7 linked regions of the Homo sapiens genome follow. The protein of the gene in region 5 purifies or fractionates together with the protein of the main gene of each other region. This does not show direct contact. Each region holds a gene or a part of one and is shown on either strand. Other genes may lie near its edges. The genes, in order: CHORDC1, MAGOH, TAGLN, TIMM44, SARNP, ZC3H11A and ACIN1.

Region 1 (3,395 bases), on a different chromosome or scaffold from region 5:
CCAATACTGTATTGTTTCATATGAGAAAAGCCACTGACAAAAAAGAATAACTGGCTTCAAGTTTCATATTGAGAACTAAGTACTATATTACTTGATAAATCTACTACAGTATCTCCAGAATGGTTCAGCAGTAAGTCTACTATACAGAAATTTTCATTTAAAATAGTTTCATAGAAGTAATTTAATTTTTTTTAATGGGAGTCATTATAAAATCTTACCCCCAAATCAGCTGAGATATAAACAATACTTTAAAATACAGTAACATAAAGAATGATGTATAGAAAAGAACTTTTACCCAAAATTATAAGATGTACTTACCAATGTGCTATTTGCTTCTACTCGGCTAAGTTCTGGAAGTGAGTTTTTAGCATATACTGAAATGGTAACTTCACCTCCAGTCTGATGCCAGTCATGTCTACATGGAACAACTTTTTTCCCCTGTAATGTAAGAGAAACTCTGTAAGTTAAAAAAGTGCCACATAATTAATTTCTTAAAAAGAGGAATTTGACCCATCTGAGAAAAAACTACCATGCACAACAACTAAGCACTTAATGTTTAAGGGCAAAAAACTTCTATATTTCCCAAGAGGCTTAAACAAGAAAATATATCATGGTACAAAGATTCTTCATAAATTTTATGATTTCAGAACACACTTACTCCTTCCCTTTGTTTTTTTCTTTCAGGGCCATAATATTGATACACAGCTAAAAAGACAATTTAAGAACTCCTACTAAATTTAATCCAATTTAACATTCTGTAACCTACTAAGTACTGTCATCAAAACATTCTTTGAAGACTGAAATGAAAGACATTTGTTTACTGGGATAAATCAGACAACACCTTAACCTCATGCACTAGAAACCTTATTTATTTTCTACAAATCAGAATCTAAGAAAAAAATCTGACCAGTTATTACTTTCTTCCCATTTTAATAAAGAACAAATGATTTTTGGATTTTCTGATTATGAAAATAATCCTTACATACCAGTAGTATACTATACTGCCCTACCAGTATTTTTTTTTATAGAGGCAAATGATGATTTGTTATATAAATGAGAACAATTTAGTTACATAATTCAGGAAACTGAGACACTACTGTTGTAAAAGGTACTATTTTCGTTTTGATAAAATTACATTAACTAAATTTAAATTATATATATCACTCACATTTTTCCCCTTAGCTACTAGCTTAGATACTTAATACTTGATAACTGCATACATTAAAAAACAAGAGAAATTACATCATTTTATCTAGGATTATACTCCCAAACTTAACATAATGGAAAACAACATTTTATTTTTTCAAACTAAAATTTTCAAACTTTTGGACTATAAAAAATACACTCTTTTTATTTAAAAACATTTCTGATAGTTTTGTGGTAGATGAATTTTTATAACTTCAGGGTATTTTTATAATATCCAACCATGTGTTATTAAAAAGCAACTAGGGCCAGGCGCGGTGGCTCACGCCTATAATCCCAGCACTTTTGGAGGTCGAGGCGGGTGGATCACGAGGTCAGGAGTCCAAGACCAGCCTAGCCAAGATGGTGAAAACCTGTCTCTATTAAATATACAAAAAAATTAGCTGGGCGTGGTGGTACGCACCTGTAGTCCCAGCTACTAGGGAGGCTGAGGCAGGATAACTGCTTGAACCCGGGAGGCGGAGGTTGCAGTGAGCCTGCACTGCACGTCTGGGCGACAGAGCGAGACTCTGTCTCAAGAAAAAAAAAAGTGGGGGAGGGGCAGCAACTACAGAAGACTAAAATATTGAAATCTCTAAATTAATTTGAAAATTTAATACATTATAAAATACATTAACAATAGCTAACAGACAAAAACTTATTGAGCAATAAGTTGCTCATCCTCTCACAATTTAATGGGGTTTTGGGAAATTATTTGCATAGCCCCCAAGTCTTTTTAAAAAGCTGTCCAGGGAAGTAGGAAATGATGCTTTTTTCCCCCCTTTTGATAAATATCCCATTAGCAAGCAGAGGCATTCAAAACAATTCCACTGAAACAAGACTGCAATCCTCCTCTCTGGCCACTAGATGGAGTGTTTGTGCATCTGTAAATGATTGAAGTTTTAAGTGGCCAAAAGAATAACAGAGGTCTAAACGTTTAACGTCATCAAATTCATAGAAAAGTAATTTTTAAAAAACAAAAAGTAGGAAGAGGCCATGGAGCTAATTTTATTAATTAAAGAAGACAAAAATTCTTCAATTTTGTCAGGCTTAAGTATTTCACAAAACCTCACATGCTTGCATCAAAACAGACAATGGCTATTTTGCTCAAAAGGCAGTACACTGGCAGCTTGACTCAGATTCATTTTATTTCGTAGTCACATCAAAGCTCTATGGTGCAAAAAAGAAAACTTTTTTTTAAAATCTAAAGACAGAATAATTTCAAATCTTTAAAAAATGACTCAGATGAATATAAACCCAGTGTGCTATTTTTGGAAGAGTTACTTACAGCATCTTTTTTAGTCCACATGTGTTTCCCTTTTGTACAGCCCTCTTGGGCTAAGAATGTATTAAAATCAGAAGTTTTTCTTCTACAACAGCTCCAGTATTTCATCCTTTAAATTATCACAGAAAAACTTCAGAAATAAAATCTCACAACCAATTAAATCCACAAGTATTTTAGGGATAAATCTGATTTTTAATAAGCCAGTAAGTGTACAAACTCTAGCATTTTACAAGTGTCTAAGTTACTAAAAATGAATGTACAGTATATCAGGAAGAATGTGGAAACAGAGTGGAAGATTTTTACACAGTGCTGCATTTCTATAAACTAGAGCATAATACAGAAGAGAGGCTCTCAACTGCAGGATGCGGAAAAGTATGGGTCGTCTTGGGATAATGTTGTCTTAGTGCCCCAGGGCCCAAAATTCTAAATGCCCTGCAATGTGTAGGACAGTCCTTCAAACAAAACATTTAGCCCAAATAGCATCACTTTTAAATACAGAATATGAAGAAAAACAGGCAGTTTATATCACAATGACCACTTAAGAACTGTAACCTTGTTTCTGTTTTCTCATGTATAAACACACAACATACAAACCCCTGTGTTTGTGTAGGCTATTGTGAAGATGTTAATGGCAATGTAAGTAAAATGCCTAATAACACTGCATGGCAAACAATGTTTAAAGACAGAAAGGTTTAACTTTCTAAATTCTACCATAAACTATTTTAATAAGTCATGCATAAGTTACCCCTCATGGAAAATAGGTACTCCAGAATGATATACACAGACTTCTTCTAGACTCTCTAGACCCTGGTATGTCTAAAAAGGAAACAAAGAGAAAAAAAATTAGCTGCGTATCTTACAGTTACATCTCATACATATTTGCAGTATTGGTGACCTCTACGAACTTTGCAAAATACTTAAATGACAA
Region 2 (3,835 bases), on a different chromosome or scaffold from region 5:
ACCACTTATAAAATTTTTATTTCTATTAACTCGTTCTACCATCACAACAATTCTGTAAAGAGGGAAGGGCATATTCCTTTGTACCAGCAATAAGCCATTGGATACTGTAATTAAAATCAATTCCATTAATAATTGCAAGAAGAGTTATAAAGAACTTGGGAATGCATTTAACAAGATGTACAAAACTTGAAAGGGCTTTATAGAAGGACAAAAATATGTATCGTTTTTGTGGATGGCAAGATTCAGTATCATAAAGATGTCAGTTTTCAACAAAGTAATTTATAAATTCACTCTTAATTCAAATAAAAATCGCAGTAGGATTTTTTTCCCTTTAGAATCAAATAGAATGAGCATTAAATTCATGGAAAATCAGAGGCAAGAGTAGCCAAAATAATACTGGAAATTTCTTACAAAGCTGTGGTCATTTGTAGTATGATATTGCCTCGGGAATTGACAGCTAAACCAATGGAACAGAATAGAGAGCCCAGAAACCAACCTATGAATATATGGAAACTTAGAAAAGTGTGCTACAGAGGTGGACTTTCACATTAATGGGAAAAGAACGAATTATTTAACAAATTGTACCAGGACAGCTGACAATGTATTTATGGAATATTTTTAAAATTAGGCCATAGAAATCAAAAATTTTAAACAGAATATAGACTTGTATTATTTCTGGGTAGAGAAGGAGTTTTTAAAACTCCTTAAGGGGTAAGATTGGTAAATTTGACTTCTTTACAACTTAGGTTTGACAAAAGATGGCAAGATAAAGTTGAAAGATAAGCCATAGACTGGAAGAAGTTATCTGCAAAACATAAAACTGGCAAGAGTTCTCCATCCAGAATATATAAAGAATTACAAATTAATAAAAAGACTGTCCCGTGGCAGAATGTGCAAAGGTTATGAATAGATAACTTACAAGATCAAACAAGTGGCTAATATGAAAAGATTTACGGCTTCATTTGTAAAATGAAAGGACAACAGTGAGATACCATTTCAGACCCATTAGAATAAAAACAGAAAAAAATCTGCCGAATTTAAAAAATGATATGAGAAAAGAGTGAGAATAAAATTAGTATAACCGCGTTAGGGAGTAATTTTGTGGCATCTGGCAGCATTTAAAATACTAGGAATTATATGGAGACATATTCACATGTACAAGGAGATGTATAGAAGAATATTCTTGCTACATTGTTTATAGGAATAAAAATTTAAAACTTAAGTTTATTTCAGTAGGGAAATGGAATACCACAAGCATTTAAAACTAATGAGCTAGATCTGTGTAACTCAACATTGATAAATCTCGAAAACAATGTGGAATGAAAAATGTAAAAAGTATGTATAATAAGACCATTTTGTAAAAATTTTAAAGCACACTACCACGTCTAGGCCAGGTGCAGTGACTCATGCCTGCATTCCCAGCACTTTTGTTCTTAATTGGGAGGCCAAGGTGGGAGGATGACTTGAGGCCAGGAGCTCAAGACCAGCCTGAGCACAGTGAGACCTTTTTTTCTACAAAGAAAAAAAAAAAAACCCTAAAAATTAACTGGGCGTGGTGGCGCATACCTGTAGTCCTAGCTATTCGAGAAGCTAAAGGTGCAGTATAGCATGAGCCCAGGAGCTCAGGGTTACAGTGAGCTATGATCCTACTACTATACTTCAGCTTCAGTGACAGAGTGAGATCCTGTATCTAAAAAGAAATAAGTAAAAACATACTACCAAATCTGAAACAAGAGTGGAACAAATCGGGATACAGGAGGGAGAACAGAATGGGAGATGGACATAAACTTTGTAATATTTTACTTCTTTTTTAAAAAAAATCTGACACAAGTATGGCAATAATTTATAAATCTGAGTATTGGAAACATCTCAGTTTTTTCGATTTTCTGATTGAATTATAACAAAAAGGATATATGAATCAAAAAGAAGAAAAAGTAAATAGGCCTCACAAGAATATGAATTCCACAGGGCAGAGATCTTTGGTTTGCTTGGTTTTACTTATCTGTCCAAAGCACTGAGAACAATAGCCAGCACCCAGTAGGCTACACATAGATACTTTTTGAAGGTTATGGTACTCATGTCACTGTTTGGAAATTGAGATCCAACATCATACATGTAGGGAGTGACAAAGTGGGGATCAAACCTAAGGTCTGGAAGTTGCCTAGATAGATTAGATTCTTTGGTTTTTGTTTTTGTTTGTTGTTGTTGGAGACAGGGTCTCACTCTGTTGCCCAAGCTGGAGTACAGTGATGAGATCATGGCTCACTGCAGCCTTGACCTCCTGGGGTGAAGGAATCCTCCCACCTCAGCCTCTCTAGTAGCTGGGACCACGGATGCACACCACCACACCCAGCTAGTTTTCGTATTTTTTGTACAGATGAGGTTTAGCCAAGTTGCCCAGACAGGTCTTAAACTCCTGGGCTCAAGTGATTCTCCTGCATTGGCCTCCCAAACTGCTGGGATTACAGGTATGAGTCACCACACCCAGTCCAATTGTTTGGTATTTTTAAAACATAGGTGTATTCATGTTACTCCACATTGTTGACAATGAAAACTCATACAAAATACTACATAGGCTGGGCGCAGTGGCTTATACCTATAATCCCAGCACTTGAGAGGCTGAGGCAGGCGGATCACCTGAGGTCAGGAGTTCGAGACCAGCCTGGCCAACATGGCGAAACCCTGTCTCTATTAAAAATACAAAAAAATCCATCCTGGCTAACACGGTGAAACCCCGTCTCTACTAAAAATACAAAAAAAATTAGCCGGGCGTGGTGGCGGGCACCTGTAGTCCCAGCCACTCAGGAAGCTGAGGCAGGAGAATCGCTTGAACCTGGGAGGCGGAGGTTGCAGTGAGCCGAGATCATGCCAGTGCACTCCAGCCTGGGCAACAGAGTGAGACTCTGTCTCAGGAAAAAAAAAAAAAAAACCTACATAGATTTTTCCAAATCTGAGAAATGGTAGGGCCTTAAGGGTACAACTTCTTCTAAATATGAGCTGTATTTATCTCTTGTTTCTAGTGCCCAGCACAGTTTAGTGCTCAGAGTGAACTGCCCTTGTTTTTGTGGCCATCTGTAGTCAAGTTTGTGTGATTTGGCAAATGATTAATCCTTCTGTGTGCTTGATGAATAATCCAATTCTACTTGACTTCGATTTTCTAAAATGTTTCTAGGAGCTTGAAATCGTCATTGGAGATGAACACATTTCTTTTACAACATCAAAAATTGGTTCCCTTATTGATGTCAATCAATCCAAGTAAGTGTGCATGATCCTTATATCCAGTTGTGTCTGTTTTGGAGCAGATTGATAAGAAACCTTAACCAAATTGGGACCATTATGGGAAGAGCTGGGGCAAATGCAAAATGCAGGTGGGCAGCTTTGTCCTTCTTGTTAGGGAGGAACCCCAAATTATTTTTGAGGACTTGCTCCTATTACTTTTGGTGTTTCATTCAGCCATTGCTACTGCGAGCTTCTTGTTGACACACACATATAGATTAATGCATAGGAGCAGCCAGAAGAAAAAATGGAATATGCCAAAAAAGTGCTCATGATAAACTGTAGAGTCACCGAGTCTGAATAGCTTTCTCAGTGTGACTGTTGAGACTGGCACATCTTAAAATCTGACTTCAGTGAAACTTGACATTTTTTAGGATCTAAGTTTTATTTTATTATAAATTTATTATTATTATTATTTTGAGATGGAGTCTCCCACTGTCACCCGGACTGGAGTGCAGTGGCGCAATCTCAGCTCACTGCAACCTCTGCCTCCTGAGTTCAAGTGATTCTCCTGCCTCAGCCTCCTGAGTAGCTGGGACTACAGGCACCTGCCACCACA
Region 3 (4,495 bases), on a different chromosome or scaffold from region 5:
ACCAGACTGAGGCTCACTTCACCTCTGACCTGAGCGGCCCCCAGCTCACCAAGCCACAGGCCCAAGCAGTGCTCCCTGATGCGGCGTTTATAATCCGCTCAGCGTGCAGGCCGAGGCAGGAGGGTGATGAAAGCTGGGCAGGCTCCAAGAGGAGGGAGTTTTGATATGTCCCTGAAAGATTCATTTAGACTTCAGTCGGCTAAGGAGGACATGATTTGGGGGCCAAGGAATCTGTTGAATTCAGAACACAACCAGAGGTCTGCAGGGTCAGGGATGGAGGAGTGGGCTTTCCCCTCGCCAGGGCCCACTCCTCTTCCTGCTTTTCCTGCAGGCGCCACTGGGAGGTGCTATGGCTGTGCCTCCCCTGGGCTCTGGAGCATGTCCAGTTGCAGTGGGCAGAACTGCGGAGGCGGGCCCCTCCTCTGCCAGGCCTGGCAGCCCCCTCCTAGGGCCTTGTTTGGCTAGGGGTGGTGCCGGGTGTGGCAGTGTGTGTGTAGTGGAGAGTGTTAGGTCTTCCCTACCAGATGCCCTTGCAGGGGAGTGCCACAGCAGTCAGTCCAGGGATCCCACTGTTAGTCTCACCTTTTTTAACCTCTTATCTCTCCCCAAGATCCCTGAAGCCAGGTACGAGCAAGATGAGAGTGGGTTATCTCTGGAGTGACAGAGGCTGGTCTGTTTTCCAGGCTGGTAGGGACTGTTCCTAAAGGGAGGAAGGGATGATACCAGCCTCCTGAGCCTCCTTCTCCTGCGTTAGTGTCTCAGGCCCTGCCAGGCCTTATAGACCCTCTTATTGACACTGCCCACTGGATGGGGACCGGAGTTGGACTCAGCTTCTGCCGAACCCTCAAATCCCAGCCCCAACTAAAGCATATAACTCAAGACCTACCTGCACTGAAAGCTCTTCTCAACCTGAGCAGGGTGGTCCAATTGAAAGGGTGGGTCTGACCACCTCTCCTGCACCCATGCGGGTTGGCAGAGGTGTGCAGGATCTGCCACTTACCATTCACCATGTGGCCTTGAGGAAGACGCACTCGGGGCCTCAGTTTCCTCATCTATAAAATGGGGATGTAATTACACCCTCACACTGTAGCTGTGAGTATTCAATGAGAGCACTGCAAAGGGCCTGGTGTGGAGTAGGTCCTCAGGAAAGGTTGGATCCCATGTCCCATCAGAGCTAAAAGCCCCAGGAGGAGAGGGTGGCTGGTTTGTCCCCACAAACCCCTGGGATTCCCGGCTCCCCAGCCCCTTGCCCCTCTCTCCAGCCAGACTCTATTGAACTCCCCCTCTTCTCAAACTCGGGGCCAGAGAACAGTGAAGTAGGAGCAGCCGTAAGTCCGGGCAGGGTCCTGTCCATAAAAGGCTTTTCCCGGGCCGGCTCCCCGCCGGCAGCGTGCCCCGCCCCGGCCCGCTCCATCTCCAAAGCATGCAGAGAATGTCTCGGCAGCCCCGGTAGACTGCTCCAACTTGGTGTCTTTCCCCAAATATGGAGCCTGTGTGGAGTCACTGGGGGAGCCGGGGGTGGGGAGCGGAGCCGGCTTCCTCTAGCAGGGAGGGGGCCGAGGAGCGAGCCAGTGGGGGAGGCTGACATCACCACGGCGGCAGCCCTTTAAACCCCTCACCCAGCCAGCGCCCCATCCTGTCTGTCCGAACCCAGACACAAGTCTTCACTCCTTCCTGCGAGCCCTGAGGAAGCCTTGTGAGTGCATTGGCTGGGGCTTGGAGGGAAGTTGGGCTGGAGCTGGACAGGAGCAGTGGGTGCATTTCAGGCAGGCTCTCCTGAGGTCCCAGGCGCCAGCTCCAGCTCCCTGGCTAGGGAAACCCACCCTCTCAGTCAGCATGGGGGCCCAAGCTCCAGGCAGGGTGGGCTGGATCACTAGCGTCCTGGATCTCTCTCAGACTGGGCAGCCCCGGGCTCATTGAAATGCCCCGGATGACTTGGCTAGTGCAGAGGAATTGATGGAAACCACCGGGGTGAGAGGGAGGCTCCCCATCTCAGCCAGCCACATCCACAAGGTGTGTGTAAGGGTGCAGGCGCCGGCCGGTTAGGCCAAGGCTCTACTGTCTGTTGCCCCTCCAGGAGAACTTCCAAGGAGGTGAGGAGTGTGTGAACGCACCTGTGTTGGAGCACGGTGTCCCACTCTGGCGGGTCCCCAGGGCCTGAGCAGCAGCGATAGCCCTGTGACAATGTGAAGGGCCACAGAACTCTTGTATTCCAGTCAGGGGCAAAGAGTGGAGACGGAAGGCCTGTCCTTCTGACAAGCAGCCCCTTCCACTGTCTGACAGTGGGAGGTCACCCCCACTGTAGCAGAGGGGTGGGGGGCGGGTACTGCCAAGGAGGAGCTTTGGAGTGATAGGCGGGGCAGGCCTGGGACCCTTGGTCTTTCCCAAAGGGTGGTTCCCTTTCGAAGTTGCTATTCCAAAGGTAGCAGTGAGGATGGCACACATTTATGTAGCCAGGCCACTCCTGTTTGTCCGTGGAGTGGAGAGGAGCCACCCTCCTGCCCTCTCAGAGGTCCAGGTGTGCTCACTCCTATTTGGGAAGAGAGAAGGGGCACAGCAGCCCTGCAGGGGCCCCTGGCTCTGCTCGTGTTTCTGGGCTTCTGCTGGTAGGGGGTGCCACCTTCCCGTTTGACCCTGGACTTTCTTTCTCCACTGCCCACTTTCACCCACTGGGCAGCTCAGGGGAGGGGTCCTGGCAGGAGCCACAGGGCAGGAGGGTCCATGCCTGTCCATGCTGTCCTGGGAGTGTCTTGAGATGCCCCTGGGGGGGCCGCCCTGTAATCATCCTCCTCTCCCCCTCCCCACTGGCTCGAAGGCAGGACTCGGGAGGCTTCATCAGAGGACTCTAAAGGATTTCTGGGGATTCTCCACTTTTCGACCCTGACCCAGGAGGAGGAAGGGGAAGGATGGTGGTGCTGGGTGGGAGTGGGGATGGTGTGTGCTTCATCCCCCTCTGACCGAAATCCTAATCTTGTCTCTAGATCTGGGGGCTGCAGCGTTGTGTACCTGTCACCCTTAGCCTTGCTGCTTTGACCTGTATTGTCTGTTCTGACCCTCCTGAGACTGGAAGCTGGGGGTAGGGGACACACTCTCCTTCCATCCTGTTCCTCAGGAGCCCAGCAGGGGTGCAGAAGGGGAAGGCAGACATGAGGGCAGGTGGAGTGGGGGTAGAAGCAGGGCCAGAGACAGAAGGTGGATGCCTGTCTGGGATGGTGGTGCAAAGGCTGAGACAGAGGCTGGGGTGGATGGAAGCCAGGATGCAGGGCTACCAAAATCACCTGGTCCCAGCTGACTTGGGGGTTTGGACCACAGTTCTTTGTGCAGGAGTCCTTGGGTGGTTGGGGAGCGGGGGTGGGACACACAGGGTGAAGGGAGGGATTGGCTGTTTGTAGCTGAACAGCAGAACAGAGCACTCTGCCTTTGGGGTCTCTGGCATCACTGGCAGGGAGAGGGGTGGCTGGGCCAGGAGCCCACCTCATCCCCAGTGCTCAGAGAACTGGGTCCTCAGAAGTGGTCCTGCCCCCACTTTACACATAAGGAAACAGACGCAAGGAGGAGAGGGATGCCCAATGACGGGCACTTCGATGAGTCCGTGTGAACTCTGTTCCGTGTGAGCTGCTGCGCGCTCAGGGAATGATTGTGAGAAGCGGGTGGAGGCTGGAGTGGGCAGCAAAGAACTGACATTTTGAGGTCAGTTTTTCACTCCTTGGTCAAGGGCAGGCTCTCTCCCTGGTCATTACCAGGAGCCTGGCTCCGGGCAGCAAAGAACTGACATTTCGAGGAGCTCTGCTAAGGGCCAGGCAGTATGTGAGGGAGTTCACAGACACCGTCCCATTTTCACAGCCCTCTGAGGTTGGTAACATAACCCCCACTTCACAGATGAGGAACTCCAGCCCAGAAAGCCTGTCAGCCCTGAGAAAGGAAGGGCAGGGCATCGGGCTGGGCAGCTGGCCTGGGACCAGTGGGGTGTGATAGTGTTGGCTCTGCTTCCCGCGGGTGGGGTGCCAGTGGGGAGGGGTCTCACCAGAGAGGGAGCCGGGGGAGTGCGCTCCTGCGTCCATCCTCAGACCAGCGTGTCCCTCCCAACCTCTGACCCCTCTGAGGCCAGGGGATGGGTTCGGCTTCCTTTGGTACCTCTTTTGGAAGTCTCTTCAGACAAACACTGGAGAGAAGGCACAGCACCCTAGGGTGACATCAGTGGACAGGTCAGTTTCCTGTTCCTGTTCCCAGCCACCCCTGTCTGTCTGCCCAGGGACCTACCTGCCTGGCCCACTCCTGCTGCCACCCCTCTCCATGAGTGGGACTCCTGAGCAGTGCCAGGCCCAGGCCCTCAGGGTGGCAGTTGCTGGATGGGGCCAGGCTTCCCATTCCCTGGCAGGCAGACTCTTGGCTCTGGAAGATCCCTGGGGGACTCTGACTTCTTGGTTACTCAGGCTACTCCGTAAGGGTAGCCTTACGAGAGCGTAAGGGCATGAGGGGAAGTCGATGGGTAGAC
Region 4 (4,571 bases), on a different chromosome or scaffold from region 5:
TGACACAAGGTCTCTCTCTGTTGCCCAGGTAGTGTAGTGTAGTGTAGTGTAGTGTAGTGGCACGATCACGGCTCACTACAGCCTTAACTTCCCGGGCCTCAACGATCCTCCCATCTCAGCCTCCTGAGTAGCTGGGACTACAAGCACATGCTACCACGCCAAGCTAATGTTTTGTATTTGTTGTAAAGAAGAGGTCTTCACTATGTTGCCCAGGCTGGTCTCAAACTCTTGGGCTGGAGAGATCCTCCCGCCTCAGTGTCCCAAAGTGCTGGGATTATAGGCATGAGCCACCGCGCCCGGCCAAACTCCGTACTTTCAACCACAACTAAGAATCCATATTTCTAGCCCAGACCTTATTCTTAGCAACACACCTGTGTACACCAACCGCTTAACTAGTTTGCTCCTCTTGGCATCAAGACATCTCGAACAAAGCCAGAGTGGAAGCCCTCATCTCTTACCCCCACCTTGAGGGGGAGCTCCTGAGATGGAGAACACAAGTCTATCCATCGCAGAAGCCAGGAATGCATGCTCTCCGGGGCCAAGCTGCCTCCCTTTGAAATAATGAAGTCCCATAAACCCATATCACAGGTTAGTAATGCAAAAAGACCGGGTGCGGTAGCTCACGCCTGTAATCCCAGTGACTCAGAGGCTGAGGCAGGAGGATCGCTTGAGCTTGGGAATTGGAGGCTGCAGTGAGCTAGATTACGACACTGCACTCTAGCCTGGGTGACAGAGCAAGCCTCTGGCTCTATAAAAAAAAAAAAGGATCCAATAAGACAAACAGCAACAGCAACATACATTAGCTCTCCCAGGGGACCAACCCTCCTCCTCATACCCGGATTGCATGGCCATGTTAAAATACCGCCACCTGGTGGCGGCATTCTTCGAATGGAAAATAGCATCTGGGGTGCTGAAATGACAAAGGCCTGAGCGTCTTCAGATCAGAGTGTCAGTTCACACTGAATCGAAGTAGGACTGGACCACAGTCAGCCCGCTCTCAGCTTCCTCTTCTTATTCGGGGTCAAAACCAACAGGCGTCTTCCCAAAGCGCCGCACAAGAGTGGGCTCCTTCGCTTTCTCGGAGCGACTCACTTGCTGGTCTCTCAGCCATTGTCAATCAATCAGTCATTGCAGGGGCAGCCATAGACAATTACTCTGGAGCTGGTCCGCCGGTCAATCAGAATCCAATCGAATCCGTCCTTGTGGTCGGTGGATCCACGTGCCTGTACCACCTGCCACCAGCGCCCGGCGCGTTCTGTAGCCGAATCACCGCAAGTGACGGAATACACGCCCCTGGGCTCCGCCCCCTCGTAGTCGCGCCCAATCACAGATCTGACCCTCCCAGGAGTGCCCTCCCCCGGGCCACATCCAGTCACGGGCCCCGTCCTTCCAAAACACTGCCCTATCAGAGGTCAAGCTCTCTAGGCATTCCCTACCCTTTTAATGCCCCGCCCTATGACGGACCCAATCGGAGGGCTCTCCCTACCCGAAACCCCGCTCCTGGAGCGGCTTTTCTCAGGCTTGCGCGGCTCTAGGCCGAAGCGGCGGATGACGCAACCGGGCCGCGCCGCGAGAAGGTCACACGATTCTCCAACATGGCGGCGGCGGCCCTGCGGAGTGGCTGGTGCCGCTGTCCACGGGTGAGCGGCGGTGCGGCGCTGGCAGGGCGAGCTTAGGGGTCTTCTGGGCCTTCGGCCACCAAGGCTTTCTTCTCAGACCCTTGGCCTTCGCGACCCTTGCTTGGGCTCCTTAGAAAGCTTGGGGTTAGATCTTTGGGTAGCAGAGGCCAGGACAGGGGGCACAGAGCGTGGCCTGAGGGCGGGGACCGAGCTTACCGGGCAGGGGGCGGCGATGCGCGGGACCTGGGAGGGAGCTGATCACCCTTCGCCCTCTGATCAGACTCCACGTATACAGGAGAGAGAATGGTAGCCGGGGCGGCGGCGTCCCGTGGAAAAAAGTAGAGGGGAAGGCAAAAAAACGTGAAATTCACAGCTCGCGGTTAAATGCCAAGTTCTCTACCGAGAGCATTTCTTGTCTCGTTTCTTCTAACGTTCATTGTGGATGTGCGAGAGGTGGTTCGCGCCCTAGCAGGCTCTTGGGTCCACAGGGCAGTGGCAGTCAAGACGTGTAAGGCGCACTCAGAAAGTAGTACTTCATATTGCTCGTGCTCTTCGTTTTTTCTTTTTTCTCTTTTTTTTTTTTTTTTGAGACAGAGTTTCGCTCTTGTCGCCCAGTCTGGAGTGCAATGGCGCGATCTCGGCTCACTGCAACTTCTGCCTCCTTCTGCCTCCGGGTTCAAGCGATTCTCCTGCCTCAGCCTCAGGTGGATCACCTGAGGTCAGGAGTTCGAGATCCACTGGCCCACATGGTGAAATCCCATCTCTACTAAAACCCCATCTGTACTAAAAATACAAAAAAATTAGCCGGGCATGGTGGCGCGCTCCTGTAATCCCAACTACTTGGGAGGCTGAGGCAGGAGAATCACTTGAACCCGGCAGGCGGAGATTGCAGTGAGCCGAGATCCTGCCACTTTACTCCAGCCTGGGCAACAGAGGGAGACTCCGTCTCAAAAAAAAAAAAAAAAGTTATCCTCAAGTAAATACAGGAGATAGTAGGCACCTGTGTAAGTTTGGGATGTTGCATAGGGTTCTCAGAGGTAGGAGGCAGAGAACAGAGAGAAAAACGGCCCAGGAAATGTGGAAATGGTGGAGAAGTTGTACCTGGTCTTTTGACATCAACACGCCAGGTTCTGTGCTGGGTGACAGGGTGCCGAGCTGAACAGGACCTGCACAGAGCTTTTTTTTTTTCCCCCAATTTTTTATGGAGGCAGGGTCTAGCTATGTTGCCCAGGCTGGTCTCAAACTCCTGAGCTCAAACGATCCTTCCGCCTCAGCCTCCCAAAGTATCGGGATTACAGGCATGAGCCACCAGCTCAGTGCCTGCACAGAACTTAAGGCAAGATCTCGGCTCACTGCACCCTCCACCTCCCGGGTTTAAGCAATACTACAGGTGTGTGGGACTACAGGTGTGTGCCACCACGCCCGGCTAATTTTTGTATTTTTGGTAGAGACGGGATTTCACCATGTTGGCCAGGCTGATCTCGAACTCCTGACCGGGTGATCCTCCCACCTCAGCCTCCCAACGTGTTGGGATTACTGGCGTGAGCCACCGCGCCCAGCCAGCAAGTGCCTTTTACATGAGATCAGCCCAGTCTTTGCCCAGAGCGACTCCCCTAAATTACTCTGTTTATAGCTCAACCCTTGAGGAGGACATTGTAGGTTTATTCCAGAGTTGTCCCTGGGGCAACACATTATCGATGTTTGTGTCTGAAAAATCCAGTTCTCTCATCTTTGGAGGCTGGCAGAAATGGGGTGGGCTCGCAAGAGAAGACTGCTTGCCACTAGCATAGAAGCTTAGAGTGCCTACTTTCAGACTAAGGGATTAAATTGTACATTTAGCCTTCTTCCCCCCATGGGTTGGCATTTCCTGGGACCTGTCCGTTTTCCCCCAGTTTCAGGGGCACGAGGATAGATGTAGGCCCTGGAGGTACAGACACAGCATTTTCTCTTTCCACCAGCTTCTGCTTGCTTCTCAGACTTTGGGAAGATTACAGAGTGCCCGGCATGCATCAGGCATAAGATACAAATTGGCCAGTGAGGCCAGGTGCAGTGGCTCATGCCTGTAATCCCAGCACTTTGGAAAACCGGGGGAGGGGTGGATCACCTGAGGTCAGGAGTTCGAGACCAGCCTGGCCAACATGGCAAAACCGCTTCTCTCCTAAAAATACAAATATTAGCCGGATGTGATGGCGCATACCTGTAATTCCAGCTACTCGGGAGACTGAGGCAGGAGAATCGCTTGAACCCAGGAGGCATAGGTTGCAGGGAGCTGAGATCGCAGCACTGCACTCTAGCCTGAGACTCCGTCTCAAAAAAAAAAAAAAAATGGCCAGTGAGTTGCAGGTGACCCTGCTGTTTTGTGTGTGGTCTGCTTACTTCTCAGTCAACCTCTTGTTAGAATGGATCTTTCTCTTCTCTCCCCCCAATTAGAGATGCCTCGGCAGTGGAATCCAATTTCTTTCCAGCCACAACCTACCCCATGGGTCGACCTATCAGATGCGCCGGCCGGGCGGAGAGCTGCCACTGGTGAGTGACTCAGGATGCTCGGGCCAGCAGACACAGGGGAGGCCCGAAAATTCAGATCCCATTGGCAGGAGGGAGGGGTGGGGCTGTAGAGGTGGCTCGTACCATCTCGGTGGTGGGCCTTCTGTGTCCGGGGCTTTCAGAATGACAGATCCCAGTGTGCCTGGCCTTCTCGGTCCCAGAAACACTTGACCTGCCTCTTGCTTGATGTCGTAAGGGGATAAGGTGCTGTCAGAATAGCCCTTTATGTTGGCTCTAATGCTTGGAAGAGACCCCTGTATTGAACTGAATTCTACTTCCCTGTGACCTCTGCCCGTGGGTACCTCACCAAGCATAGCTGTTTCCTTTTCTAGAAGATAGCCCTTTGATCATTGGTACAGAGTCACCTTGTCACAACCAGACCTCAGTTTCTCCTGGTCATTCCTCTTC
Region 5 (3,835 bases):
TAGAGACCAGCCTGGGAAACACCATGAGATGCCATCTCTATTAAAAAAAATTTTTGGTCGGGCGTGGTGGCTCACTCCTGTAATCCCAGCACTTTGAGAGGCCGAGGCAGGCGGATCATGAGGTCAGGAGATAGAGACCATCCTGGCTAGCACGGTGAAACCCCGTCTCTACTAAAAATACAAAAAAAAAAAAAAAAAATTAGCCGGGCGCGGTGGCGGGCGCCTGTAGTCCCAGCTCCTCAGGAGGCTGAGGCAGGAGAACGGCGTGAACCCGGGAGGCGGAGCTTGCAGTGAGCCGAGATCGTGCCACTGTACTTCCACCGGGGTGACAGAGCGAGACTTTGTCTCAAAAAAAAAAAAAAAAAAATTTTTTTTAAGAATCTTGATCTTTCTCACACTGATACATTATTTTCTTCCCACTTCCTGGAGAACAAGTCTTTTGATCTTAATTACACTTTAAATTTTTTGTTTGTTATAAAAGTATTATGTTCACTGTAGAATAGTTAGAAAATTCTGAAAAGTTTAGAGGAAAATAAAAGTCGTATGTAATCCCAGCACTTACAGATCACTTAACATTTACATATATCATTTGTAGTGAGGCGTGAGCCACTGTGCCCAGCCTACACACAGCTTTTACATAGTTGTATTACTTCTTTTGTTATATAGTGAGTTCTTCTCATATACTAGGACGTTATTTTAAAAGGAAAATAGACATTATTTTAAAAGGAAAATAGAGGCTGGGCATGGTGGCTCATGCCTGTAGTCCCTGCAAGTTGGAAGGCTGAGGCAGGAGGACAGCTTTGAGCCCCGGAGTTCAAGAACAGCCTGGGCAACAGAGTGAGACCCTGTTCCTACAATTTTTTTTTTTTTGAGATGGAGTTTCACTCTTGCTGCCCAGGCTGGAGTGCAATGGCGTGATCTTGGCTCACCGCAACCTCCACCTCCCGAGTTCAAGCAATTCTGCCTCAGCCTCCCGAGTAGCTGGGATTACACACACGCGCCACCATGCCTGGCTAATTTAGTGTTTTCCCATGTTGGTCAGGCTAGTCTCGAACTCTCGACCTCAGGTGATCCACCCGCCTCGGCCTCCCAAAGTGCTGGGATTACAGACATGAGCCACCACGCCCAGCCAAATTTTTTTTTTAATTAGTCACACAAGGTAGCACACGCCTGTGGTCCCAGCTACTAGGGAAGCTGAGGTGGGAGGAACGCTTGAACCTGGGAGGTCAAGGCTGCTATGAACTGTGATCACACCACTGTACTCCAGCCTGGGCAACACAGCAATACCTGGCCTCAAAAGAATGAATGAATGAGAAACAGATGAATAAAAACATAAAACAGCTGAAAATGATGTAATTTCTTTTTGCACGTATTTCAGCACAATTACATTAGCAGAACTAAAACCTTTTAAAACTTAAAATAGGAACTAACATAAAATCTTATCCCATTTTTCTAAATTGATTTGATTTGATTTGAAATGTTTTGGCTCCAACACTTTGGGAGGCTAGAGGTGGGCAGATCACTTGAGTCCAGGAGTTCGAGACCAGCCTGGACAATATGTTGAAATCCCATCTCTACTAAAAATACAAAAACAGCCAGGCATGGTGGCATGTGCCTGTAGTCCCAGCTACTTGAGGGGCTAAAGCTGGAGGATGGCCTGAGTCCAGGAAGTCGAGGCTGCAGTGAGCCGAGATCATGCCACTGCACTCCAGCCTGGGTAACAAAGGGAGACCCTATCTCAAAACAAACAAAAAATATTTTAACAAGTATACTGAATGAATTGTATGGTACGTGAATTGTATCTCAGTAAGGCTATTGAAAAAAAAAAATTAGCCGAGCATAGTCGCATGTGCCTACAGTCCCAGCTACTCAGGTGGCTGAGATGGAAAGATCACTTGGGTCTGGGAGGCTGAGGCTGCAATGAGCCATGATCATGCCACTGCACTCCAGCCTGGGCAACACAGTAAGACCCTGTCCCAAGAAGAAAATAAACAAAAAAAACCAGCTAGGTAGGCACAGTGATTCACATCTGTCATCCTAGTACTTTGGGAGGTCGACGCAGGAGGATCACTTGAGCCTAGGAGTTCAAGACCAGCCTGGGCAACACAGTGAGACCCTGTCTCTCAAAAAACAAAAAACTAGCCAGGCACACTTGTAGTCCTAGCTACTCGGGAGGCTAAGGCAGGGGCATCACTTGAGTCCAGGAGGTTGAGGCTGCAGTAAGCCATGATCACACCACTGCACTCCAGCCTGGGCGACAGAAGGGAGACCCTGTCTCAAAAAACAAAAAAAAAAAAGAAAAGAGTTATAGAACATTCTATAAGGATACTAACATTAATGTAAAAAATAATACACACACATCTCTGTATAATGTGTATAAACAAGATGCCTGGAGAAGAAACAGGTAAGTTAACACTGGTTGAATCTGAGAAGAGGAAGCTAGTTTGGGAAAAGTGTAGGAAAGAAACTTTTTACCATATACTCTTTTGTGAACTTGTGCATGATTACCTATTCAAAAAGTTTTTTAAATCTTATTTTTCAGTATCAATAAAGCATTCTCCATTCTACCTATCCAACCCACAGAGAAAAGACATATCAACTTACCCTCATCATACATTTGACATTAATCATGCATTGCCCTGTGATTTCTATTTATTTTTATTTTGACTCAGGGTTTTGCTCTGTTGCCCAGACTGGAATGCAGCAGTGCAATCGCAGCTCACTGCAGCCTCGACCTCCTGGGTTCAAATGATCCTCCTGCCTCAGCCTCCTGTATAGCTGGGACCACAGGTGTGTGCCACCACAGCCAGCTAATTTTTTTATTTCCAGTAGAGATGAGGTCTCACTATGTTGCCCAGGCTGTTCTTAAACTCCTGGGCTCAAGTGATCCTCCTGCCTCAGCCTCCCAAAGTGTTGGTTAGGATTATAGGCGTGAGCCACTGTGCCCAGCTTGCCCTGTGATTTCTTCTAGTTAACTGACCTTGAATTTTTTTTTTTTTTTTTTGAGACTCAGTTTCACTCTTGTCACTCAGGCTGGAGTACAGTGGCACAATCTCGGCTCACTGCAACCTCCGTCTCTCCAGTTCAAGCGATTCTCCTGCTTCAGCCTCTCCAGTAGCTGGAATTACAGGCGTGCACCACCATGCCCAGCTAATTTTGTATTTTTTAGAAGAGATGGGATTTCACCATGTTGGTCAGGCTGGTCTTGAACTCCTGACCTCAGGTGATCTTCCCGCCTCGGCCTCTCAAAGGGCTGGGATTACAGGCATGAGCTACCACACCCGGCCAAATTTTGATTAAAATATTTTATCAGAAATCTTTTTCACGTTGGCCAGGCGCGGTGGCTCACGCCTGTAATCCCAACACTTTGGGAGTCCGAGGCGGGCGGATCACCTGAGGTCAGGAGTTCAAGACCAGCCTGGCCAACATGGTGAAACTCTGTCTCTACTAAAAATACAAAAATTAGCCAGACGTGGTGGCAGGCACCTGTAATCCCAGCTACTCGGGAGGCTGAGGCAGGAGAAGGGCTTGAGCCCGGGAGGCAGAGGTTGCAGTGAGCCAAGCCAAGACCACGCCACTGCACTCCAGCCTGGGTGACAGAGCGAGACTCCATCCCAAAAAAAAAAAAAGAAATCATCTTTTTCATGTTATGTCAACATATAGTTTGTAAATTCTTTGAAGGCAGAGATGTTTTAGACCACCTATAACATATATGATGGGAACTCAAAATCCTTACAAGGAACCTAAGTGGTTGGTATTACAATTAGGCTTAAAGAAATTCAATAACTTGCTTAAATATCACACAGCTTGGCCAGGTGTGGTGGCTCATGCCTGT
Region 6 (3,835 bases), on a different chromosome or scaffold from region 5:
TATACTTAGTTTCTGTTGATCATTTATTCAAAAATAAATGCCTGCTATGTACAGATAAAATACAAAGATGAAAAGGCTCCCGTTCCTCATAAAATTTCTATTTGAATTTTCAGGTGAATGTTTGAATTTTGGAATAAAAACTCTTGAGGAAATTAAGTCAAAGAAAATGAAGGAAAAATCTAAGAAGCAAGGTGGTAAGTCATCACGTTTTGGCATGGATAGTTGTATGTTGCTAGGGAAGAATACTAAGGACGCTTCTAGAAGCAACAGCCAAAATGAGCAAATAGATTTTCATTTCCATGGCCTGTTTGAAGTAAAACACAGACTTATTTAAATTGTGGTTGCTTTTAATTCACTGCAGCTGTGTTTCAGTCCCTAACTTTTCAGAGCTGGGTACAATAAAGAATCTGAAAGAACTTGTATATCTTGAAAAATATAGCTCTGAAGAACATCATATAAGAACTATATTAATTCTGTAAGTTCTTATAGTGGTTAAAAAGAAATTATATTAAGAGAGGAAAGGCTGGGCGTGGTGGCTCACGCCTGTAATCCCAGCACTTTGGGAGGCCGAGGAGGGCGAATCATGAGGTTGGGAGATCCAGACCATCCTGGCCAACATGGTGAAACCCCGTCTCTACTAAAACAAAAAATTAGCCAGGCGGGGTGGCATGCACCTGTAGTCCCAGCTACTCGGGAGGCTGAGGCATGAGAATTGCTTGAACCCAGGAGGCAGAGGTTGCAGTGAGCTGAGATCGCACCATTGTATTCCAGCCTGGCGACAGATCAAGACTCTGTCTCAAAAAAGAAAAAAAAGGAAAAACGTCATTTTCTAGTAGAAGAGTTCTTCCTCAAGAGCTGCTAGGATTTTCTTCTGGAGCTTACGTCAGCCTGATTGCTCTGTATTTCCAACCCCCAATTTTTTTTTTTTTTTTTTTTTTTTTTTTTTTTTTTTTTGAGACAGAGTTTTGCTTTTGTTGCCAGGCTGGAGTGCAATGGCGCAATCTTTGCTCACCACAACCTCCACCTCCCAGTTCAAGCTATTCTGCTGCCTCAGCCTCCTGAGTAGCTGGGATTACAGGCATGCGCCACCACGCCTGGGTAATTTTGTATTTTTGGTAAAGACAGGGTTTCTCCATGTTGGTTGGGCTGGTCTCGAACTCCCAACCTCAGGTAATCCACTGCGCCCAGCCCCCAGCCTTAAAATTTATAGTGTGAAGTGTAGTATATATAGAGAGAAATGGTTCTAAAAACCTTCTTTTAAGGCTTGCTTTATAGCAACCTTGGAGTTGTGTTTTCAGATGATTAAATAGAATAGGTTGGATTGATACACCTGATGGCTAGTGTACCTCTGAGGTTAATTTTAGAATAATACTAGCTTTATTGGTAAATATTAGCCTTATTGGTAAATAAAAGTAGTTTGGGTGCCTAAGTCACTCAAAATAATTTTATATTTTGTTTTCACATCATGCCCAAGGCTCCCCTCACCACTACTCCATTTGACTGTAGGCAAACAGATACAGAAAGGCTGATTGGCTTATAGTCATAATATCAGTCTGTATTGGACTTAACTGGTTACAAAAACAAATTTTTTGACTTGGGATAGCATTATTTTCCATAAATTATTTGCTGTTCTTTGACTTGCCTTATTCAGAGGGTTCTTCAGGAGTTTCCAGTCTTTTACTCCACCCTGAGCCCGTTCCAGGTCCTGAAAAAGAAAATGTCAGGACTGTGGTGAGGACAGTAACTCTCTCCACCAAACAAGGTAAGGTATAGATAGGTCTTAGAGTTGTCAAGCCTCTACTTTTATATAATTGGGAATGCAAAATCCTTGGGTATCTTTTACCTTTGATGAATTTTCAGGAATTTGTTAGTATGCTGATGAGATAATCTAAAGATGAAAAGTTGGTACATTCAACTCTAATATTTAAAAGGTTGAAATTCTTTGTCAAGCAGCCCTCACATATATTTTTCCATTTACTGTTTATATCCACTCAATACATTTATTGGCTTCCCATGTGACTAAAGAATAATAGGTATATATAATAAAGTTTTTTATTTATTTCTTTGAGACAGAGTTGCACTCCTGTTGCCTAGGCTGGAGTGCAATGGCATGATCTCAGCTCACCGCAGCCTCCGTCTTCTGGGTTCAAGCAATTTTCGTGTCTCGGCCTCCCAAGTAGTTGGGATTATAGGCATGTGCCACCAAGCCCGGCTGATTTTTTTGTATTTTTAGTAGAGACGGGGTTTCTCCATGTTGGTCTGGCTGGTCTCAAACTCCCGACCTCAGGTGATCCGCCCGCCTTGGCCTCCCGAAGTGCTGGGATTACAGGTGTGAGCCACCGTTCTTGGCCATTAATTTTTTTTTTTTTTAGATGGAGTCTTGCTCTGTCGCCCAGGCTAAAGTGCAATGGTGCGATCTCCACTCACTGCAACCTCCGCCTCCCAGGTTCAAGTGATTCTCCTGCTTCAGCCTCCCCAGTAGCTGGGATTATAGGCACCCGCCACCACGCCTGGCTAATTTTTGTATTTTTGGTAGAAACGGGGTTTCACCATGTTGGCCACACTGGTCTTGAACTGCTGGCCTCAAATCATCTGCCTGCCTCAGCCTCCCAAATTGCTGGGATTATAGGTGTTAGCCACCACACCCGGCCTGTAACGAAGTATTTTCACTTAATAATTTTAAGCCTAATAAGGAATTATAGATATAGATATATTTAAATGTTTGTGCAATTCAAACAACAAAGAATTAGAAGAAAGAGAGCTCACTTCTTCCTGAGGTGATCAGAGATAGTTATATTGGACAGTTAACATCGGAGTAGAGTACAGTTTCATTCAACATATCAAAGTGCATAAGCAAAAGGATAGTTTCAGCTTTATAACCAATTGGTTAAGAATACAATCTGTCTTATACTCGACTGCTATTAATAATTAGTACTATTCTAGGCTGTGCGCAGTGGCTTACATGTATAATCCCAGCACTTTGGGAGGCTGAGGCGGGCGGATCGCTTGAGGCCAGGAGTTCAAGACCAGCCTGGCCAACATGGTGAAACCCTGTCTCTACTAAAAATACAAAAATTAGGCTGGGTGTGGTGGCTCACGCCTGTAATCCCGGCACTTTGGGAGGCCGAGGCGGGCAGATCACAAGGTCAGAAATTCGAGACCAGCCCGACCAACGCGGTGAAACCTTGTCTCTACTAAAAATACAAAATTTAGCTGGGCATGGTGGTGCACGCCTGTAATCCCAGCTACTCAGGCTGAGGCAGGAGAATCGCTTGAACCCGGGAGGTGGAGGTTGCAGTGAGCCGAGATCGGGCCACTGCACTCTAGCCTGGGCGACAGAGTGAGACTCTGTCTCAAAAAAAAAAAAAAAAAAAACACCAGGTGTGGTAGTGTGCGCAGTAGTCCCAGCTACTTGGGAGGCTGAGACAGGAGAATTGCTTGAACCCAGGAGGTGGAAGTTGCAATGAGCCAAGATGGCACCACTGCACTCCAGCCTGAGTGACAGAGCAAGAGTCTATTATTATTATCAAAATAATAATAATAATTAGTACTATGCTATTGCTTCTGTTTAGGCTGTATGTTTGGCTGTTTATTATTAATAGGTTTGGGTTTTTTTTTTTTTTTTTTGATATAATGGCCTTCCTTAAGACTGAGACCTGATTTTCAAGAGACTTTCTGGGTGGATTTACACTAATATCAGAACATACTTTGTACCCATTAGTAGTTACTGAATACAGAAAAATTGACTAAGGATAGAGAAATTCTGCTTTTGCCATTTCAGGAGAAGAACCCTTGGTTAGATTGAGTCTTACTGAGAGACTGGGGAAACGAAAAT
Region 7 (3,835 bases), on a different chromosome or scaffold from region 5:
TTTTCAGTTCTAAATAGGACTTGCTAAGCAAGAAGGTTCTAGGGAGGAGAACTTGTGAAGAGAAAGCTGGAGGTCAGAAGGGCAACTTGGGAATCTGTATTACAAAAAAAAAAAAATAGGAAAAGGCATAAGCTCCTGTTACCAAGGATTTCCTTTCACCCAGACAAAATGGAGTTATAACTTTGTCTAAATGCTGAATGGATATCCCTTTTCTTAGTCTCTTGATTTCATACTTTTAAATACTATACTTGAATTTTGGAGTTGTTTGATAAAATGTTTCCTGGATATGAGGCCGGGCATTGTGGCTCACGCCTGTAATGCTAGCACTTTGGGAGGCCAAGGCGGGTAGATCACCTGAGGTCAGGAGTTTGAGACCAGCCTGGCCAACATGGCAAAACCCCGTCTATACTAAAAATGCAAAAATGAGCTGGTTGTGGTGGCACATGTCTGTAATCCCAGCTACTCAGGAGACTGAGGCAGGAGAATGTCTTGAACCCAGGAGGCGGAGGTTGCAGCAAGCCAAGATCGCGCCATTGCTCTCCAGCCTGGATGACAGTGATAGTCCGTCTCAAAAAAAAAAAAAAAAATGTTTCCTGGATAGGTAACGGTTGATCTTTTGGAGGAACTGGCTTTTTTTTTTTTTTTTCTTGAGATGGAGTCTTGCTCTTTAACCCAGGCTGGAGTGCAGTGGCACGATCTCAGTTCACTGCACCCACCACCTCCTGAGTAGCCAGGATGACAGACTCACACCACAATATGCCCACCTTTTTGTATTTTTGGTAGAGACGGGTTTTGCCATGTTGCTGAGACTGATCTTGAACTCCTGAGCTCAAGCAGTCTTCCCACTTCAGCCTCCCAAAGTACTGGGATTACAGACGTGAGCCCCCATGTTTCAGTCTTGATACTACCAAAAGGAAATTTTAGATTACCCTTTAGATAATGTTCCACGTAATCTAGGAATTTAGCCTAAAAGATATAATTACAGGAATTTTAATTTAAGGTTATTTGTGGCTGGGCACGGTGGCTCACACTTGTAATCCCAGCACTTTGGGAGGCTGAGGCGGGTGGATCACTTGAGGTCAGGAGTTTGAGACCCGTCTGACCAACATAGTGAAACCCCGTCTCTACTAAAAATACAAAAATCAGCCGAGTGTGGTGGTGCACACCTGTAATCCCAGCTACTCAGGAGGCTGAGGCAGGAGAATCATTTGAAGCCAGGAGGCAGAGGTTGCAGTGAGGGAAGATCACGCCACTGCACTCCAGCCTGGGCAACAGAGTGAAACTCTGTCTCAAAAAATAAAAATAAAGAATAGTAATTTGTATACCAGTATCACTCTTTGGGAACTGAATATTTAAATCAAAAACTTATGTGCAGCTCTTCTTTTTGCCCTTTTTTTGTGTGTGACTCAAGGCTATTCTGTTCTTCAATATAGAACTAACTTAGAAAAAAGCCTTCCAACATTTTAGTTATCTTTCTTGGGCGCAACTATAAGGAGTGGACCTTTGCTCCATGGAATGTTCTTCTTTGCATTCTCCTGGTTTGTTTTCCTAGACCCTCTGTTTTCATTTCCTCTACACAGATTGGTGAGGAAATGAGCCAGAACAGTTTCATAAAACAGTATCTGGAAAAGCAGCAGGAGCTACTTAGGCAGCGTCTGGAACGTGAAGCTCGAGAAGCTGCAGAACTTGAAGGTAAGCCCAGATTGTCACTTTTAACAAGGAGTTCGTCATTCTTATCCCTGTCACCAAGTAGATAGGCCTGTCTAACTAGACAATTTCAGAAATAAGTGAGGCTGAGACTGCTACTTACTTGCTTTCATAGCCCATGAAGCCAAGTGGTTTACTATTTACTTTTGTCAGGGAAGAGGACACTTAATTTGACTGTCTTGTTAGAAGAGGATTCCTGCCAACAGGAAGAGTTATAAGTAAATTAAGCTACCATTTAGATGAAGTAGAGCTGAATCCCAGGGAGTTTTTTCTTTTTATACGGTGCTCTTTTTGGTATGTATCTCTGTATCTGTGACTTTGCCTGACCTCCTTCACTCCTCTACATATTCCTACATGCTGAGTCCTTCACTCCCTCCCTGCCCCGACCCGATCTGTACTTTGCAGAAGCTTCAGCTGAGTCGGAGGACGAGATGATCCATCCTGAGGGAGTGGCTTCCCTGCTGCCTCCTGACTTTCAGAGCAGCCTGGAGAGACCAGAGCTGGAGCTCAGCAGACATTCGCCCAGTACGTATCTCCCTCCCCACTGCGCTGTTTTGTCAATCCTGCGTAGTTGGTGGGGGGAGGTAGTTACACCTCCTTTCATGCTAAGCCTCCATGAAAGTCCCAGGGAAATTCTGTGACATTGATATTTGACATCTGTTTCTCATGGAAAGTATACCCTTTTTGAAGTCTGCTTTCACCTATATATTGTGTTACCTTCTCAGTGTTTTACGAAGCAGTGTGATTTTTCTTCTCATCTGTACCTCTTCAACTCTTCTACCTCTGAATTTGGCAACAGTCAGCTCTTTTTCATCTCTTCACCAGTTGTGTATATTACGTGTTAACACATTCAGTCACCCTCTGGAGTTGGGTATCTGCTGTGGTTTAATCAACAAATTTTTATTGTGTACTTGTTGTATACCAGGCACATGCTAGGCACGAGGAATATAGTAAAGAAAGAAACAAGTCTCAGCCCCAAGAAACTTAGTCTAGTGAGGACATGGACATTAGTTACAGTTGTTTTGGCTACTGTGCAAGGCAACGCAGAGTATTATGTGAGCATATTATAGTAGGGAGCTCTAACCTAGTATATGGGATTGGTTCAGGCAAGATTAATTAATTTCTTCACATTATAGAAAATATTAAGCACCCAGACTGGGTGTGGTCGCTCACGCCTCTAATCCCAGCACTTTGGGAGGCTGAGGCAGGAGGATCACCTGAGGTCAGGAGTTCCAGACCAGCCTGGAAAAACCGTGAAAAAGCCATGGCAAAACCCTGTCTCTACTAAAAATATAAAAATTAGCTGGGTATGGTGGCAGGCACCTGTAATCCCAGTGACTCGGGAGGCTAAGGCAGGAGAATCGCTTGAACCCGGGAGGCAGAGGTTGCAGTGAGCCAAGATTGCACCATTGCACTTCAGCCTGGACAATAGAGCGAGACTGTGTCTCAAAAAATACATAAAATCATAATAGGCACCCAATTTTGCATAATATCTCAAGCAAAAGTCTATAAATATAGCCTTTGTCTTTTGGGAACTACCTGTCTAAGTCAGTATACTTTGAGGAAAATATGTGCAGGTTGAGCATGCCTAATCCAAAGACCCAAAACTTTTTGAGTATTCACATGACACTCAAAGGAAATGCTCATCAGAGCATTTCAGATTTTGGGTTTTCAGATTAGGGATGCTGAATCAGAAAGTATAATGCAAATATTCAAAAATCCAAAATCTAAAACACTTGTGATCCCAAGCATTTTGGAAAAGGGATACTTAATATGTATATAAGACATGTGGATTGTTAGTACATATGTTAAACCAATGTGTAACTTAACAAGTATTTTGAATAATTAGTGTTGAGGGGGATGCGGAATCCACCATAATCAGTGTTTTTAGGATGTATGGAGGTTTCCAGCTCTTCTGATTAATACAGAATTCCTTCATGGACTACACTTGATTTTAGTTAAAAGGCTGAGCAGCGATAGACTCTTCATGGAAATAGATTTTTTAGGAGACATTTAATGGTGGGAAAGAAATTTTCCAAAAGGCTAGAGAAAATAGAGAGCCTTTGAGTCTAGTTTTAAGGTCCTGTTTTACTCAGTCCCTGTTTTTCTTGATCCTAGTCTTAGACCC

What was found.
Region 1: the proteins of SARNP (region 5) and CHORDC1 purify together in Homo sapiens (affinity purification with mass spectrometry, with the first as the bait; one large-scale study listed by BioGRID). This does not show direct contact.
Region 2: the proteins of SARNP (region 5) and MAGOH purify together in Homo sapiens (affinity purification with mass spectrometry; 2 studies listed by BioGRID and IntAct, with this or other methods). This does not show direct contact.
Region 3: the proteins of SARNP (region 5) and TAGLN purify together in Homo sapiens (co-immunoprecipitation; 2 studies listed by BioGRID and IntAct, with this or other methods). This does not show direct contact.
Region 4: the proteins of SARNP (region 5) and TIMM44 fractionate together in Homo sapiens (co-fractionation; one large-scale study listed by BioGRID). This does not show direct contact.
Region 6: the proteins of SARNP (region 5) and ZC3H11A purify together in Homo sapiens (affinity purification with mass spectrometry; 4 studies listed by BioGRID and IntAct, with this or other methods). This does not show direct contact.
Region 7: the proteins of SARNP (region 5) and ACIN1 purify together in Homo sapiens (affinity purification with mass spectrometry; 2 studies listed by BioGRID and IntAct, with this or other methods). This does not show direct contact.

What each region holds. Positions count from the first base shown.
Region 1 is NC_000011.10:90,202,990-90,206,384, forward strand, and holds part of CHORDC1 (cysteine and histidine-rich domain-containing protein 1), read right to left. Parts: intron 3,284-3,395; coding exon 3,213-3,283; exon of another isoform or gene 3,212-3,212; intron 2,577-3,211; coding exon 2,471-2,576; intron 439-2,470; coding exon 319-438; intron 1-318. UniProt on the Homo sapiens protein: Regulates centrosome duplication, probably by inhibiting the kinase activity of ROCK2. Proposed to act as co-chaperone for HSP90. May play a role in the regulation of NOD1 via a HSP90 chaperone complex. In vitro, has intrinsic chaperone activity.
Region 2 is NC_000001.11:53,228,292-53,232,126, reverse strand, and holds part of MAGOH (protein mago nashi homolog), read left to right. Parts: intron 1-3,172; coding exon 3,173-3,255; intron 3,256-3,835. UniProt on the Homo sapiens protein: Required for pre-mRNA splicing as component of the spliceosome. Plays a redundant role with MAGOHB as core component of the exon junction complex (EJC) and in the nonsense-mediated decay (NMD) pathway.
Region 3 is NC_000011.10:117,197,737-117,202,231, forward strand, and holds the start of TAGLN (transgelin), read left to right. Parts: upstream 1-1,633; 5' UTR 1,634-1,696; exon of another isoform or gene 1,697-2,093; intron 2,094-2,114; exon of another isoform or gene 2,115-2,176; intron 2,177-4,024; exon of another isoform or gene 4,025-4,178; intron 4,179-4,495. UniProt on the Homo sapiens protein: Actin cross-linking/gelling protein. Involved in calcium interactions and contractile properties of the cell that may contribute to replicative senescence.
Region 4 is NC_000019.10:7,940,676-7,945,246, reverse strand, and holds the start of TIMM44 (mitochondrial import inner membrane translocase subunit TIM44), read left to right. Parts: upstream 1-1,580; 5' UTR 1,581-1,595; coding exon 1,596-1,640; intron 1,641-4,049; coding exon 4,050-4,145; intron 4,146-4,571. UniProt on the Homo sapiens protein: Essential component of the PAM complex, a complex required for the translocation of transit peptide-containing proteins from the inner membrane into the mitochondrial matrix in an ATP-dependent manner.
Region 5 is NC_000012.12:55,807,466-55,811,300, forward strand, and holds part of SARNP (SAP domain-containing ribonucleoprotein), read right to left. Parts: intron 1-3,835. UniProt on the Homo sapiens protein: Binds both single-stranded and double-stranded DNA with higher affinity for the single-stranded form. Specifically binds to scaffold/matrix attachment region DNA. Also binds single-stranded RNA. Enhances RNA unwinding activity of DDX39A.
Region 6 is NC_000001.11:203,830,010-203,833,844, forward strand, and holds part of ZC3H11A (zinc finger CCCH domain-containing protein 11A), read left to right. Parts: intron 1-113; coding exon 114-194; intron 195-1,651; coding exon 1,652-1,762; intron 1,763-3,781; coding exon 3,782-3,835. UniProt on the Homo sapiens protein: Through its association with TREX complex components, may participate in the export and post-transcriptional coordination of selected mRNA transcripts, including those required to maintain the metabolic processes in embryonic cells.
Region 7 is NC_000014.9:23,088,379-23,092,213, reverse strand, and holds part of ACIN1 (apoptotic chromatin condensation inducer in the nucleus), read left to right. Parts: intron 1-1,580; coding exon 1,581-1,692; intron 1,693-2,112; coding exon 2,113-2,232; intron 2,233-3,835.